2 separate regions of the Homo sapiens genome follow, and region 2 is linked to region 1. The links come from fine-mapping of genetic effects on gene expression. A gene starts in region 1. The other region holds a variant in brackets. All regions are shown on one strand. Distances are between the middles of the regions.

What was found.
Region 2: its variant is fine-mapped to the expression of YJU2 in whole blood (TOPMed, PIP above 0.99).

Annotation. Positions count from the first base shown.
Region 1 is chr19:4,243,274-4,252,158 of GRCh38, forward strand. It overlaps YJU2 (YJU2 splicing factor homolog), which reads left to right and starts at 3,807. Exons shown (of 8, transcript NM_018074.6): 1 at 3,807-3,897; 2 at 5,955-6,055; 3 at 7,754-7,898. The coding sequence starts at 3,874. RefSeq lists enhancers at 2,867-3,638, 3,397-3,536, 3,877-3,966.
Region 2 is chr19:4,268,523-4,277,353 of GRCh38, forward strand. YJU2 (YJU2 splicing factor homolog) reads left to right here. Exons shown (of 8, transcript NM_018074.6): 8 at 62-566. The coding sequence ends at 174. Among named protein-coding and RNA genes, the nearest start is that of SHD, 6.3 kb to the right of the region's middle. The variant G/T (reference allele first, on the strand shown) is at 5,782.

The DNA.
Region 1 (8,885 bases):
CAGTGCCTGGCCTTTTTTTTTTTTTTTTTGAGACAGAATCTGGTTCTGTTGCCTAGGCTGGAGTGCAGTGGCATGATCTGGGCTCACTGCAATCTCCGCCTCCCAGGTTCAAGCAATTCTCGTGAGTCAGCCTCCCAAGTAGCTGGGATTACAGGCACCCACCACCGCACCCCGCTAATTTTTTGTATTTTAGTGGAAACGGGGTTTCGCCATGTTGGCCAGGCTGGTCTTGAACTCCCGAGCTCAGGTGATCTGCCTGCCTCTGTTCATGGATTTGACTATTCCCTCTCTTTCTCTCTCTCCCTCTCTCTCTCTCTCTCCCCACTTCCTTCCAGTTCTCGATTTCTTGGAAAACCAGAAAAACAACTTAGTTTCAGCTTGGTGTAAAACTTCCGCATGAGGGACTTCATTTTGGTTTAGTCTTTTGGGCCTAGTGCAGGAGCTCAGTCCAAACCCATGGCTTCCTGTAAACTTTATTTAACACCATTCCTTGTCCCATATTATTGTCTTCCTGGTGCCAGGAAAAGGGGTCCCTAGCTGGGTGTGGTGGCTCACACCTGTAATCCCAGCACTTTGGGAGGCTGAGGTGGGTGGATCACCTCTTGAACACCTCAGGAGTTCAAGACCAGCCTGACCAACATGGAGAAACCCCGTCTCTACTAAAAATACAAAATTAGCCGGACGTGGTGGCACATGCTTTTAATCCCAGCTACTTGGGAGGCTGAGGTAGGAGAATAGCTTGAACCTGGGAGACGGAGGTTGCGGTGAGCCGAGATTGTACCATTGCACTCCAGCCCGGGCAACAAGAGCAAAACTCCTCAAAAAAAAAAAAAAAAAAAAAAAAAAAGGAAGGCTACTCAGTTACAAAGTAGGGCGTCCTCAGAAAACAAGAGGAGGAACGCCTTGTCTTTGTTTTAAGGTTTTTATTTTTATTTTATTTATTGATTTATTTTTGAGATGGAGTCTTGCTCTGTCACCCAGGTACAATGGCACGATCTTGGCACGATCTTGGCTCACTGCAACCTCCACCTGCCAGGTTCAAGCGATTCTCCTGCTTCAGTCTCCTGAGTAGTTGGGATTCAGGCATGTACCACTGCGCCCAGCTAATTTTTATATTTTTAGTAGAGACGAGGTTTTACCGTGTTGGCCAGGCTGGCCTTGAACTCCTGAGCTCAAGTGATCCTCCCACCTCGGCCTCCCAAAGTGTTGGGATTACAGGTGTGAGCCACCATGTACAACCGGTTTTTTCTTATATAGGGGTCTTATCTGTGTGAAAGCTATGTCCACGTGTAGGTGGGCTGACCGCGTGACAAAACGTAGTACTTTGTCGACTTAAAGAAAGTTATCCTGGCTGGGTGCAGTGGCTCACACCTGTAATTGTAACACTTTGGTAGGCCGAGGCCGGCAGATCACTTCAGCCCAGGATTTCCAGACCAGCTTGGGCAACATGGCGAAACCCTGTCTCTACAAAAACTGCCAAATATTAGCCAGGTGTGGTGGTACCTATAGTTCCAGCTAACTCGGAAGGCTGAGGTGGGGGATCGCCTGAGCCGGGAAGTGGAGGCCACAGAGAGCCATGATTGCGTTACTGCACTCCAGCCTAGGTGACAGAGCGAGACCCTGTCTCAAAAAGTATACATACATATCCTTGCCATTTTAGTGCCTAAGTACATTACACCATGACTATAACCATATTTTCTTTTTTTTTTTTTGAGATGGAGTTTCACTCTTGTCACCCAGGCTGGAGTGCAATGGCGCCATATCGACTCACCGCAACCTCTGCCTCCCAGGTTCAAGTGATTCTCCTGCCTCAGCCTCCCAAGCAGCTGGGATTACAGGCATGCACCACCATGCCCGGCTAATTTTGTATTTTTAGTAGAGACAAGATTTCTTCATGTTGGTCTGGTTGGTCTTGAACTCTCGACCTGCACCACCGCACCTGGCTAATTTTGCATTTTTAGTAGAGACGGGGTTTCTCCGTGTTGGTCTGATTGGTCTTGAACTCCTGACCTCAGGTGATTCGCCCACGTCGGCCTCCCAAAGTGCTGGGATTACAGGCGTAAGCCACCATGCCCGGTATCTTTTTCTTTTTTTTCTCTTTTTTTTTTTTTTTGAGATGGAGTCTCACTCTGTCGCCCAGGCCACAGGGCAGCGGCACAATCTCGATCTCAGTTCACTGCAACCTCAGCCTCCTGGGTTCATGCAATTCTCCTGCCTCAGCCTCCCAAGTAGCTGGGATTACAGGTTCCCGCCACCACGCCCGGCTAATTTTTGTATTTTTAGTAGAGATGGGGTTCCACCATGGTGGCCATGGTGACCAGGCTGGTCTCGAACTCCTGACCTCAGGTGATCCACCCTCCTTGGCCTCCCAAAGTGCTGGGATTACAGGCATGAGCCACCGCGCCTGGCGACTATAACGATCTTAAAAGCATACATTGCTATGCAATATCAGGACATCTGGACCTTCCATTGTTGTAGTAGTGTGTCCTCCTAGGCATTTGTAAGACGTTTTCTCAATTGTAAACATCTTATGACCCTGGCTCGTGACTGGCAGCGAATGTGCCTTGTTAATTTTAAGATGGAGTTGATTTTTGGCCAGGTGCAGTGGCTCATGCCTGTAATCCCAGCACTTTGGGAGGCAGAGGCGAGCAGATCACCTGAGGTCAGGAGTTCGAGACCTGCCTGGCCAAAATGGTGAAACCCCATCTCTACTAAAACTACAAAAATTAGGCAGGTGTGGTGGTGCGTGCCTGTAATCCCAGCTACTCGGGAGGTTGAGACAGGAGAATCACTTGAATCCTGAGGTGGAGGTTGCAGTGAGCCAAGATCGCACCACTGGAGGCAGAGGTTGCAGTGAGCCAAGATCGCACCACTGCCCGTCAGCCTGGGCAACAGAGCAAGACTCCTCAAAAGATAAATAAATAAACAAACAATTGCCACAGCAACATCAAGAAGTTACCCTATATGGTCTAAAAAAGGGAGGTATGAATAATCCACCCCTTGTTTAGCATATCATCAATAAATCACCATAAACATGGGCAACCACCAGCCCTTGGGGCTGCTTTGTCTGTGAAGTAGCCATTCTTTTATTCATCTACTTTCTAAATAAACTTGTTTTTGCTTTGCACTGTGGACTCGCCCTGAATTCCTTCTTGCACGAGATCCAAGAACCCTCTCCTGGGGTCTGGATCCGGACCCCTTTCCTGGAACAATCTGACACAGAGGAAACGTCCATGAAAGGTGGGGAGGAGGCTGGGGAAGGAGGCTGGGGAAGGAATGGGATGGGAAGTCCTCGTTAAGGGGAAGGCACAGGTGGGCAATGGAGGGACATTTGGGAGACACTGCGTATGTTTAGGAAGTTGGTTTGGAGCCTGATCTTTAAGTCAATGTCTGTGACTCAAGAGTCGTCCAGGGTCCTCTTAAGTCACCCTATGTGTGGCCCCAACCCCATGTGAGAGTTGCGGGCCCAGGAACGATGTGTGGATTCCCAGAGCCCAGAATACAAGGCAGGCGCATAATACATATTTGCTGAATAAAAGAATGAAGAACAAGAGGTCACGTTACAAAATTTTAACGAGCCGCTGCCCGCTTCTAGGGGGCGCAGCGCACTATACAAAATTCTCCAATTCCACATGGCTCCCGGAATCCTTATTTCGCGCTACTCAGGTTGCAACTCCGGAGGGAAGACGCTGGGACTTCCAGCTTGATAGGCGGGGATTGGAACCAATGAAAGAGGTCTGCTGTGTATGCTGCAGCCAATAATAGCGGCCGAAGGAAGTGACGTTTGCGGAAGTAAGGCTTCCGTCGGAAAAGCTCGATAATTACCCAGCCTAACCATTTCTCAGGTGCTTGCGAGGTGATCAGAAGGCAAAGATGTCGGAGCGAAAAGTATTAAACGTAAGTGTTGGGCGACTGGGGCTTTTCAATCGGAGCAGGACATCCCGGAACTCCGGGAGAGGGAGGAGCTTCCTGAGATCTCTTCTTTGGAACCCTTCTTTCCCAGCGGCCTTCCGCGAGATGGGGCTTCCCAGACTCCTCCCTAGACTCCTCCCCATCGCCTTCCGTCGGGGGGGTGGGCCTTCGCTAAGTCTCCCTTCTGGGCTGGGGTGTAGTTAGTCACCTGCGGGGCGTGGCTTGGGCTTTTACCCAATCACCACCAGATAGGGTTTTTTTTCTGGGGGCGGGGCTTCCTTAAATGCTGGCGGCCGTGTTTTGCCCTCTTCTTGAGGGGCGTGGCTCTGAGAAGCCCCGCCCCACTTGGGGACTGTAACCAATCGTGTACTTTGGGTGGGGTGGGGTGGGGTGGCGCGTGTGTGTGTGTGTGTGTGTGTGTGTGTGTGTGTGTGTGTGTGTGTGTGTGTGTGTGTGTGTGTGTGTGTGTGTGTGTGTGTGTGTGTGTGTGTGTGTGTGTGTGTGTGTGTGTGTTTTGTTTTTTTTACTGGGGTCTGGTCATGCAGATAACCTCTGCCTTACAGTGGCCAAGATTTTACTGGGGTCTGGTCATGCAGATAACCTCTGCCTGACAGTGGCCAAGATTCCAGACTCCCAGAAGAAAAGCAGAGGTTCAGTATAAACTATACTGTTGGCACACTTCTGTTTTTTGGTTTTTTGAGATGGAGTTTTGCGCTTGCTTCCCAGGCTGGAGTGCAGTGGCACGTTCTTGGCTCACTGCAGCTTCTGCCTCCTGGGTTCAAGCGATTCTCCTGCCTCAGCCTCCTGAGTAGCTGGGACTGCAGGCGCCCGCCACCATGCCTGGTTAATTTTTTTTGTATTTTAGTAGAGATGAGATTTCACCATGTTGCCCAGGGTGGTTTTGAACTCTTGATCTCAGGCATTCCACCCACCTCATACTCCCAAAGTGCTGGAATTACAGGCGTGAGCCACCGCGCCCGGCCCCACGCAGGTCTTTCTAGGAGAGCAGTCTCAGGCTTGCTGTAGGAACTCCTGGGAAACAGGAGCCCTGGGATACAAAGGGAGTGTGAGTATGGATTATGACAGATACCTCCACTGCACCACTGGAAAATAAAGCACTTTGTGTTTGGAGCACCTACTGGGTGCCAGACACTGCAAAGAGCACTTTATCCCCCTTGCCTCAAGGAATGCGTGCAAAGACTCTTGGAGACAGAGGACAGTGTGCGCATTTCACAGAGGAGTAAACTGAGCCCTGCAGGTTTCAGCTCCTCAGGATTCAGATCCAGGGAGATGACTCTGTAGGAAACGGATGTAGTATCGTGATTGGGAGGCTGAGCTAACAGAGTCCTGGTTTACCCTCTACAGAATTGCTGGGGAGTTGGGACTCCTCGGGGAACTCGGTCTCCTGCCTGAACAACAGAAGTGCTAAGCAAAGCTTAACCTCTACAAAGGGCAGGGCATGATGGCTCACGTGTGTAATACCAGCTCTTTGGGAGGCCAAGGCAGGTGGATCACCTGAGGTCAGGAGTTCGAGACTAGCCTGGCCAACATGGTGAAACCCCATCTCTACTAAAAATACAAAAATTAGCGGGGAGTGGTGGTGGGCGCCTGTAATCCCAGCTACTGTAGAGGCTGAGGCAGGAGAATCGCTTGAACCCAGGAGGCGGAGGTTGCAGTGAGCCAAGATCGCGCCACTGGACTCCAGCCTGGGCAACAAGAGCAAAACTCCGTCTCAGAACAAAAACAAAAACAAACCCTGGCTTTTTAGAGCTTCCCGTGTAGACAGCATTTCATGTGTATTGTCATGACTGGTATTTAGGAGAATTAAATGCGTCCTGTATAACTCCACTAGGAGAGAGTCAGGAAGCTTGTGCCTGGCCTCCCTCTGACTGTACTGAGTCCTGCGAGTCCTCCCTGCCTGTCGCGGAACCTGGGGTGGGCTTGGGGACCCCCGACACAGCTCCCCAGAGCCCCTTCCCTCTGCCATGTCCTGCCCCTGCTTCTGAAAATAACTCCCCCAACGTTTCCTTCCTCCCCTGCAGAAATACTACCCGCCGGACTTTGACCCATCAAAGATCCCCAAACTCAAGCTCCCCAAAGACCGGCAGTACGTGGTGCGGCTGATGGCCCCCTTCAACATGAGGTGAGCACCCCCTGCGTGACCCCACACACCAGTCATGGCTGAAGGACGCAGTGCCTGGCATCCACAGAGGTGACTCGTCCGGTGTTAAGACCAGATCACTGGTCTTAGACATTGTCCTGGCTCAGACATTGACCATTCCAACCCTCCTTCGCCTCACCACTTGGGATTAAGCTTTGGATCTTTTAGAGCCCTCCAGCCAGTGCCTGCCTTGAGATCATGGTGGTTAGTAAACGTGTGTGCAGAGAGGATAGGACGCCACAGAGATGCAGCCCCATAGATATATTTCAGCTCCTCCAACAGCCAAGCTCGTTCCTACCCCAGGGCCTTTGCACACACTGCTGCCCCTGCTTGGAACTCTCTCCCTCTACTTTCTTTCTTTCTTTTTTTTTTTTTGTTGAGACAGAGTCTTGCCGTGTTGCCCAGGCTGGAGTGCAGTGGCGTGATCTCAGCTCACTGCAACCTCCACCTCCTGGCTTCAAGCGATTCTCCTGCCTCAGCCTCCCAAGTAGCTGGGATTACAGGCGTGCACCACCACGCCCGGCTAATTTTTGTATTTTCAGTAGAGTTGGTGTTTTACCATGTTGGCCAAGCTGGTCTCGAACTCCTGACCTCAGGTGATCTGCCCTCCTTGGCCTCCCAAAGTGCTGGGATTGCAGGCGTGAGCTGCCGCACCTGGCCTTCTCCTTCTACTTACACATGGCAGGCTCCTCTTGTCTGCCATAGGTCATGGCTCCAATCTCACCCCTCCGGGAGGCCTCCATCATCCCCTCACGGTGCCCAGATCTTGCCTTTTGTAGCACTTCAGAATTACTGTATTTCACCAACTCTCAACCCCATACCTTTTCATGCTCTAGCATATCTGAAATCACGCACCTAACGAGGAAAGAGACATCTGGGTCAGTGAAATTCGGTTCATGCCCATGTGTTGTTGGCCTGTCTACTCCTCCCCCTCATTCATTCATTTATTCATTCAACACTCATTTATTGGGCACCTGCTGTGTGCCAGGGTCTGTGCCGAGCGCCAGGAACAAAGTCCCTGGCCTCATGGAGCCCACAGTCTAATGGGAAGTGGAGAATAGTGGTAGTCAGGCAGGTGCACGGGCCCCCGAAGTCAGGCAGGAGAGAGCCCCTGGGGCAGTGGCGCAGGAGGGAGGGCTATAGGTAGCTGGGGTACGGTGACATCAGGCAAAATACTGGTGGCGCTGAGGTCTGAGGATGAAGGGTGTCGCCGGCCATGAGACTGTAGGAGCAGAGGCCTTGAGCTGGGACTGAGCTGGGGGTGTTTGCAGGATCAGACAGGAGGCGGGCGTGCTGGGCTGGGGAGCAGAGCCCGGAGTAGGAGGGGAAGAGGGGGGTGGGGCAGCATTTTTCTGTGTGGCATCTTTCCTCCTGGAGGGTGGGGTGCCCCGTAAGCACAAAGATTGCTTCTGGGAGTGCATGACAGGCAGGCCTCACCTACTCAGGGGGCTTCCCAAGCAGGCGACCCTTGGACTGAGCCCCAGGAAGATATGAATGAGAACACGAAGTTCTCAGGTAGAGGAAATTTGGACACAGGGTGGGGCAGCCTGCCTCTTGAAGGAGGGAGCTCCCCGTTGCTGGAGGCAAGCAAGCAGTGATCTTGCAGGATGCCGCAGGGACAGCCTGCCAGTGGGAGCCAGCGTCCCAAGACAGCTCACATCCCTACATGCTGCCCCGCAGGTGTAAGACGTGCGGAGAATACATCTACAAGGGGAAGAAATTCAATGCTCGGAAGGAGACGGTGCAGAACGAGGTCTACCTGGGCCTGCCCATCTTCCGCTTTTACATCAAGTGCACGCGCTGCCTGGCAGAGATCACCTTCAAGGTAGGTGAGACGGCCGGCCAGGCCGGTCCCTCTCCCCCAGCACACCTCAGATCAGGGCGGGCCCTGGGGTTCCTTAACTCCAATCCTCTCCATCCAGGGAATCTCATTTCAGTTTATCCCCAAGAAACAGACAACAGTTTGGGGGAGATGTTCATGGCAGCATTCTAAATAAAGGCAAAAAGACAGAAGCAACCTAGATAGATAATAATAAGGGATGAGAAGAACAAATTAGCATGCAGGCTGGGCATGGCTCACACCTGTACTCCCAGCACTTTGGGCGGCCAAGGCGGGCAGATCACCTGAGGTCAGAAGTTCAAGACCACCCTAGCCAACATGGCGAAATGCCATGTCTACTAAAAATACAAAAATTACTGGGCATGGTGGCGGACTATAATCCCAGTTACTCGAGAGGCTAAGGCAGGAGAATCACTTGAAGCTGGGAGGCAGAGGTTGCAGTGAGCGAAGATTGCACCGCTATACTCCAGTCTGGGTGACAGAGCAAGACTCCAACTAAAAAAAAAAAAAAAAAAAGCCAGGCACAGTGGCTCATGCCTGTAATTCCAGCAGGTTGGGAGGCCAAGGCAGGAAAGAGAGCCCCTGAGGTCAGGAGTTTGAGACCAGCCTGGCCAACATGGTGAAACCCCGTCTCTACTAAAAATACAAAAGTGAGCCAGGCGTGGTGGCTCATGCCTGTAATCTCAGGTACTTGGGAGACCAAAGCAGGAGAATCGCTTGAACCCGAGAGGGAGAGGTTGCAGTGAGCCAACATTGCGCCATTGCACTCCAGCCTGAGCAACGAAATGAAACTCTGTCTCAAAAAGAAAAAAAAAAGTAGCGTGCAATGGAATATTACACAGCCAATAAAAATTGCAATTTGACTTTTATTTGTTACCTTGAGAATTTAAGGAAAGACTGAAGATAACTTAAAATTTTCTCTTCCTATGCTTAAGTACTCTTTGAATACTTTTTTGCCATAAGCTTTTTTTC
Region 2 (8,831 bases), 25 kb after region 1:
GCCTTGTCCCTGGCCTGTCTGCTGTGGAGCTGAGATGAGCTAACTCTCGCTCTCCCACCAGGAGCCCCGCAGAACAGGAAGGAGGCCAACCCTACACCCCTGACGCCTGGCGCGTCCTCCCTGAGCCAACTGGGTGCATACCTGGACAGTGACGACAGCAACGGCAGCAACTGAGCCCTCCCAGGACCCCCTCACGGGGTCAAAGTCACACGTCCAGCTTCAGCCACATTGAGGCCAGCATTGCTGGTGGTCAGGGCAGGAGGCCTTGGCGTGACTGGAGGCCGGACAGACAAGCGCCAGCGTGCTCCAACACATAGGGCCACCAGGGGCCTCAGCCCCAGGAGGTCCCTTCTCTGTGCCCTCACCAGCCTCTCAACACCTCGGGGACCCCTGCTGCTCCTGCCCCCACCTGTCACTGTGCTTAGGGCTGCAACATCCCTGGAGCAGCTTCCAACACTACTTCAGGGTGGCAGTGTTTGGGGCACTGGGCGAGCCTGCCGGCCTCTAGATGGCCTCATCTCTTCCTTCCACAAACTGTCTAGAACCAATAAAAGGAAACCTGCCAACCGCCTGGGCCCCTTCTCTCTCCCAGAGTCTGATGAGGAGGTCCCAGGACCTCCTCTGTTAGCACAATTCGAGGGTCATTCCACAGAGGTTTGTTTGTGTCTTGAGACAGGATCTCACTCTGTTGCCCAGGCTGGAGTGCGGTAGCGTATTCTTGACTCACTGCAGCCTTGAACTTCCGAGCTCAGGTGATCCTCCCACCTCAGCCTCGCGAGTCGCTGAGACCTCAGGTGGATGCCACCATTCCTGGCTAACTTTTTGTATATTTAGTAGAGACTGGGTTTCATCATGTTGCCCAGGCTGATCTTGAACTCATGGGCTCAAGTGATCCTCCTGCCTCAGCCTCACAAAGTGCTGGGGTCACAGGCATAAGCCACTGTAACAGGCATGAGCCCAGATATTTATATTTAGTTGTCGCCTGAGTGTGCATCTGGGCTCTTTTTGTTTTCTCTTCTTTTTTTTTTTCTTTCTTTACCTTTTTTTTTTTTTTTTTTTTTTGGAGACGACGTCTCGCTCTTGTCCCCCAGGCTGGAGTGCGATGGCGCGATCTTGGCTCACTGCAACCTCCGCCTCCCGGGTTCAAGCGATTCTCCTGCCTCAGCCTCCAGAGTAGCTGGGATTACAGGCGCCCGCCACCACGCCTGGCTTAATTTTTGTATTTTTAGTAGAGACAGGGTTTCACCATGTTGGCCAGGCTGGTCTTGAACTCCTGACCTCAGGTGATCTGCCTGCCTCAGCCTCCCAAAGTGCTAAGATTACAGGCCTGAGCCATTGTGCCCTGCCTGTACAATCTTTTTGTTTGTTTGTTTGAGACAGAGTCTCCCTCTGTTGCCCAGGCTAGAGTGCAGTGGTGTGATCTTGGCTCACTGCAACCTCCACCTCCCAGGTTCAAGCAATTCTCTGCCTCAGCCTCCCCAGCAGCTGGGATTACAGGTGCCTGCCACCACGCCCAGCTAATTTTTGTGTTTTTAGTAGAGACGGGTCTCACCATCTTGGCCAGGCTGGTCTTGAACTCCTGACCTCAGGTGATCTGACTGCCTCAGCCTCCCAAAGTGCAGGGATTACAGGCGTGAGACACTGCACCAGCCTGGAATCTTTTAAAGTGAACAATATGAACCTTCTTTGAGTAGGCAGTTCCATTTCTGGCTGTCTGTTCTAAGAGGTATTTGCCCACATTCATAAGGAAACACCCACGAGGAGGTTTGTCGTGACACTGTGTTTAGCAGCAACATTATGGGGAACGAACCCAATGTCCCCAGTAGGTGAAGGCTGAACTCTGGCATAAATAATGGAATTCCAGCCGGGTGTGGTGGCTCAGGCCTGGAATCCCAGCTACTTGGGAGGCTGAGGTGGGAGGATCACTTGAGCCCGGGAGATTGAGGCTGCAGTGAGGTGTAACTGTACCACTGCACTCCAGCCTTGGTGAGAGACCAAGATCCTGCCTGAAAAAGGGGGAGGGGGGTGGGGAGCTAGGCCCAGGACAGGAACTGTGGCATGTTCCTGTAATCCCAGGACTTTGGGGGGCTGAGGCAGGAGGGTTGGTTGAAGACAGGAGGTCGAGTCCAGACTGGGCAACATGGCCAGACCGTTTCTCAATTTGTCTTTTTTTAAAGAAAGGTGGGGCACGGTGGCTCACGCATGTAATCCCAGCACTTTGGGAGGCCACGGCGGGCAGATCACCTGAGGTCAGGAGTTCAAGACCAGCCTGGCCAACATGGTGAGACTCCCACCACCCCCACTAAAAATAAAAAAATTAGTCAGATGTGGTGGCGGGCACCTGTAATCCCAGCTAATTGGTAGGCTGAGGCAGGAGGATCACTTGAACCTGGAAGGTGGAGGTTGCAGTGAGCTGAGATCATGCCACTGCACTCCAGCCTGGGCAACAGAGTGAGATTCCATCTCAAAAAATAATTAATTAAAAAAAAAGATGCTACAATTTGCCTTCAAAGGGGCTGCGCTCTACATACTCAACAAGGATGGGACTCACTGGCTTTATGAGTAGAAAGCTCTGGCTGGGAAGTTCCCCTCCTCGGCGGGGGCAGCAGAAGGAGTTGGCAGAGGGAAGGAAGGAACCTGTGTTTATCAAATGTTCCCTGAGCATTTGGCAGAAACAAAGTTGAACTCCCACTTCCAACACCCGTTCTTATTTTAATTTTAATTTTTTTTTTTTTTGAGACAGCATCTCACTCTATCACCCCCGCTGGAGTGCAGTGGCAGGATCTCGGCTCACTGCAACCTCCGCCTCCCGGGTTCAAGCGATTCTCCTGCCTCAGCCTCCAGAGTAGCTGGGATGACAGGCACGCGCCACCCTGCCTGGCTTAATTTTTGTATTTTTAGTAGAGATGGGGTTTTGCCATGTTGCCAGGCTGGTCTCGAACTCCTGACCTCAAGTGATTCGCCCGCCTCAGCTCCCAAACTGCTGGGATTACAGGCGTGAGCTACCGCACCCGGCCCCCAAAAAACTTTTATGTATTATATATTTTTACAATAACATATAAATAATGTATACCGAAGGTGGTGAAAATAAAGCAGGTGAGTGTGTTCTAAGGAGATGCAGAGGGGATGCCTTGGGAACGTGTTTATTGCCCATCTCTCCCTCTGTTTGTTTTCTGGTGCTGCATAACAAATTATACCAAAACTGAACAACTTAAAAACAACATAGAGCTGGGTGTGGTTTCATTGGGTCTCCCGCTTTAAGGTTTAGCAAGAATGCAATCAAGACAGAGGCCAGGCTGGGCGCAGTGGCTCATGGCTGTAATCCCACCACTTTCACAGGCCGAGGCGGGCGGATCACTTGAGGTCATGAGTTCAAGACCAGCCTGGCCAACATGGCAAAACCCTGTCACTACAAAAAAGTACAAAAATTAGTTGGGCATGGTGGTACATGCCTGTAATTCCAGCTACTTGGGAGGCTGAGACAGGAGAATCACTTGAACCCAGGAGGCAGAGGTTGCAGTGAGCCAAGATTGCACCACTGCACTCCAGCCAGGGGGACAGAGCGAGACTCCCGTCTCAAAGAAAAAAAAAAAAAAAAGACACAGGCCCAGGCTGGGGTGTCATCTGAAGGCTCAACTGGGGAAGGACCTGCTGCCAAACCTTTGTGGTTGTTGACAGAATTCAGTCCCTCATGGCTGTTGGCCAGAAAACACTCTCAGTTTCTTACCTACACAGACCTTGTCTGCAGCTTGTGTCTTTGTCCATTTGCTGCTGCTTTCACAGAACACCACAGACTGGGTAAATTATAAACAGTAGAAGTTTATTCGGGCCGGGCGCAGCGGTTCACACCTGTAATCCCAGCACTTTCAGAGGCTGAGGTAGGTGTATCACCTGAGGTCAGGAGTTTGAGACCAGCCTGCCCAACATGGTGAAACTCTGTCTCTACTAAAAATACAAAAATTAGCCGGGCATGGGGCAGGTGCCTGTAATCCCAGCTACTCCAGAGGCCGAGGCAGGAGAATAACTTGAACCCGGGAGGCAGAGGTTGCAGTGAGCCAAGATTATGCCATTGCACTCCATCCAGCTTGGACAACAGAGTGAGACTCCATCTCAAAAAAATTGGTGCACCCCAGCACCCCAAAACCAGCTGGCACATCGTGGGTGCTCGCAAATGGGTTGAGGGGGCATCACCCCATTCCCCAATGAGGAAACAGGCTCAGGGAGCCCCAGGTTTCACCTCCTCCCCTCTCACACCCCACTCTTTCATACACCACTGGAATTTTATTTTTATTTCTTTTTTTTTTCCCCTGAGAAGCTTTGTTCTCTCACCCTGTGTCCTGGGGGCAATTCTGCTCTCAGCCCCCAGTTCTCTCCTGGGGGTTCCCAGGACTGAGGGAGTAGAGGGGCAGGCACAGCCATGCATCGGGCTCTGTCCCTCCTGACCAGCGGGGGACCCCTCCCTGCCCTGCCCCACCTCTCAGGGCCCCCTACCCTCACCCTCTGAAGCCTGCCCTTCCCCTATCCCTGCCGACAGTACCCGTTCCCCACCAGCCCGCGTCTGTCATCCTGTCTTCGGGAGCTGTCAGCCTTCATCTGAGATCTCCATCAACTCCTCCGGGGCTGCCTGGCTGCTGGAGCACATCAGAGGGATGGGGAGGAGGGGCGATGGGGGCCCCTTCTGCTGGAGCCCACTGCCGCCCCAGCCTGGGCTTACAGGAGAAGAGGGGCCATGCCATTTCCCCAGCTTTTGCCAGTTCCAGTGTGAACTTGGGGCTCCCTGAGCCTGTTTCCTTATCTGGGAATGGGGTGACACCACCCACTCAGTCCACAAACACCCCCCGGGCACACGCTCTGTTGCTGCCCCATTTACAGGTAAGGGAGACTCCTCGACCTCCAGGGTGAGGGAGGGACAGGGCCTGGGTATGAAGCTCCAGGCTCCGAGGCTACGCCTTTGGTCACCCACCCCACTGCAACCCCAAGAGCTGGGCTGTGCCTGCGTGTCAGACTGGAGCCCTGGAAGGGCTGGATCATGCCTCCCCCATCAGGTAGGGGCCCCTAGAAGGAAGGCTCGCTTCTCCTCCAGCAGACTGGGACCTTGTAAGTTAGTTAGGGCCATGCCTCCTGTGTTGGACTGGGCCCTTGAAATTTACACCATACCTCCCCCATCAGACTGGGGACGCTTGAAGTTTGGACTATGCCTCCCTCATCAGACTGGGGACTCTTGAAGGCAGGCCTATGTCTCCTCCATTACTCTGGGACCCTGGAAGTCAAGACTATGTCTCCTGCATTAGACAGGGGACCGTTGAAGGTTGAACCTGCCTCCCCCATCAGACTGAAGATAGGTTCACGTCTCCTTCCTCAGAGTGGGAACCCCTCAAGGTAGGGCCATATCTCTCCCATCAAATGGAAGCTCCTGAAGTCAGAGCCGCAACTCTTCCATCAGACTGGGGGCTTCTGTGGACAAGGCCATGCCTCTGCCATCAGACCGTGAGTTAAGAAAGGCAGAGCTGGCCAGGTGCAGTGGCTCACGCCTGTAATCCCAGCACTTTGGGAGGCCGAGGCGGGCGGATCACGAGATCAGGAGATCGAGACCATCCTGGCTAACACAATGAAGCCAAGATTGCGCCACTGCACTCCAGCTTGGACGACAGAGCGAAACTCTGTCTCAAAAAAAAAAAAAAAAAAAAGACAGAGCTGGCTAGGCACAGTGGCTCATGCCTGTAATCCCAGCACTTTGGGAGGCCAAGGCGGGCGGATCACAAGGTCAGGAGTTCAACACCA[G/T]CCTGGCCAACATGGTGAAACCCCGTCTCTACTAAAAGTACAAAACTTAGCCAGGCATGGTGGCATGCACCTGTAATCCCAGCTACTCCAGAGACTGAGGCAGGAGAATCGCTTGAAACAGGAAGCGGGAGGTTGCAGTGAGCCAAGGTCATGCCACTGCACTCCAGCCTGGGCAACAAGAGTGAAACTCCATCTCAAAAAAAAAAAAGGCAGAGCTGGCCAGGCGCAGTGGCTCACGCCTGTCATCCCAGCACTTTGGGAGGCCAAGGCTGGCATATCACCGGAGGTCAGGAGTTCAAGACCAGCCTGGCCAATGTGGTGAAATCCTGTCTCTACTAAAAATAAAAAATTAGCTAAGTGCAGTGGCACACACCTGTAGTCCCAGCTACTTGGGAGGCTAAGGCAGGAGAATCGCTTGAACCCAGGAGGCGGAAGTTGCAGTGGGCCAAGATTGTGCCACTGCACTCTAGCCTAGGCAACAGAGTGAGACTCTGTCTCAAAAAAAAAAAATAAAGATGGCTGGGTGCAGTGGCTCTCACCTGTAATCCCAAAGCTTTGGGAGACCGAGGCAGGAGGATCACTTGAGGCCAGGAATTCAAGACCAGCCTGGGCAACATTGCAAGATCCCAATTCTAGAAAAAAAGATTTTTTTTTTTCCAAGATGGAGTCTCACTCTATTGCCCACGCTGGAGTGCAGTGGCACGATCTCGGCTCACTGCAACCTCTGCCTCTCAGGTTCAAGCGATTCTCCTATCTCTGCCTCCTGAGTAGGTGGGATTACAATGTGCCTGCCACCAAGCCTGGCTAATTTTTGTATTTTTAGTAGAGACGGGGTTTCACCATGTTGGGCAGGATGGTCTCGAACTCCTGACCTCAGGTGATCCACCCGACTCAGCCTCTGCAAGTGGCGGGATTACAGGTGTGAGCCACCACACCCAGCCCTCTAGAAGAATTTTAAAAATTAAAAAACACAGGCCTGGCCAGGTGCGGTGGCTCACGCCTGTAATCCCAGCACTTTGGAAGGCCGAGGCGGGTGGATCATGAGGTCAAGAGATCGAGACCATCCTGGCCAACATGGTGAAACCCTGTCTCCACTAAAAATACAAAAATCAGCTGGGCGTGGTGGCACATGCCTGTAGTCCCAGTTACTCGGGAGGCTGAGGCAGGAGAATCACTTGAACTCGGGAGGCGGGGGTTGCAGTGAGCTGAGATCGTGCCATTGCACTCCAGCCTGGTGACAGAGCAAGCTCCGTCTCAAAAAAACAAACAAACAAACAACAACAACAACAAAAAACACAGGCCCCAGAATGGACGCAGCTTGAGGACATCACGCTCAGTGAGAAACACCAGACACAGAAGGCCACAAAGTGTGTGATCCCATTTCTATGAAATGTCCAGGACAGGCCCATCCACAGAGGCAGGAAGTGGATTTGTGTTTACCAGGAGCTGGGGATTTGGAGAGATGGGGAGTGACAGCTAATTGGGTATGAGGTTTCTTTTGGAGGTGACGAAAATGTTCAGGAATTAGGGGTGATGGTCGCACAACCTTGTGGACACAGGAGAAACCACTGAATTGTACACTCTAAATGGGTGAACTGTAGGATATGTAAGTTATGTTTTTTGTTTTTTTGAGATGGAGTCTCGCTCTGTTGCCCAGGCTGGAGTGCAGTGGCTCAATCTTGGCTCACTGCAACCTCTGCCTCCCGAGTTCAGGTGATTCTCCTGCCTCAGCCTCCCGAGTAGCTGGGATTACAGGTGCCCGCCACCACGCCTGGCTAATTTTTGTATTTTTAGTAGAGACGGGGTTTTACCATGTTGGCCAGGCTGGTCTCGAGCTCCTGACCTCAGGTCATCTGCCCACCTCAGCCTCCCAAAGTGCTGGGATTATAGGTGTGAGTCACTGCACCCAGCCAATGTGAATTGTATCTTTAAAAAAAAAAAAAGCAACAAGGCCGTGTATGGCAGCTCACTCCTGTAATCTCAGCACTTTGGGGGCGCCAAGGTGGGCGGATCACGAGGTCAGGAGTTTGAGAGCACCCTGGCCAACATGGTGGAACACCATCTCTACTAAAAATATAAAAATTAGCTGGGTGTGGTGGCGGGCGTCTGTAATCCCAGTTACTTGGGAGGCTGCGGCAGGAGAATCGCTTGAACCTGGGAGGCGGAGCTTGCGGTGAGCCGAAATTGTGCCACTGCACTTTAGCCTGGGCGACAGAGCAAGACTCGGCCTCAAAAAAAAAAAGCGGCCGGACTCGGTGGCTCACGCCTGTAATCCCAGCACTTTGGGAGGCTGAGGCGGGAGGATCACAAGGTCAGGAGATCGAGACCATCCTGGCTAACAGTGAAACCCCATCTCTACTAAAAATACAAAAAAGTAGCCGGGCATGGTGGCGGGTGCCTGTAGTCCCAGCTACTCGGGAGGCTGAGGCAGGAGAATGGTGTGAACCCGGGAGGCGGAGCTTGCAGTGAGCCGAGATCGCACCACTGCACTCCAGGCCCGGGCAACAAAGTGAGACTCTGCGTAAGAAAAAAAAAAAAGCAAAAAAAAAGCCGGGTTTTGTGGTATGCACCTGTGGTCCTAGCTACCAGGAGGCTGAGATGGGAGGATCATTTGAGCCCAGGATGTTGAATGTGAGGCTGCAGTGAGCTGTGATTGCATCTCCAGCCTGGGCAACAGAGCGAGAGACCCTGTCTCAAAAAAAAAAAAAAAAGGGAGAAAAGAAAAATCCAAATCTCACAAGGTTACGTGGCTGATTCAAGGTCACAGGGGAAGGTGACTGGACCCCTAGCCTGGATCTCTTTCTCTTCTACCTAATCCTCCTGCCTCTCCCTGCCAGCCTCTCCCCACTCCCCTCCTTGGGGTAGGGTCGGGGTGCAGCCCCAGGAGAAGCCAGCTCCAAAGCACAGGAAAGTCAAATGCCGTTTGATTCCGGCCCCGGGGCCTCTAATTGCTATTCCTGACACAGATTGTAATTAGAAGGCCCCTTTCAAATATTTATACCTCAGACATCTAGTTTTATCCGGCAGGGAGACGACTTGGATTTGATGAG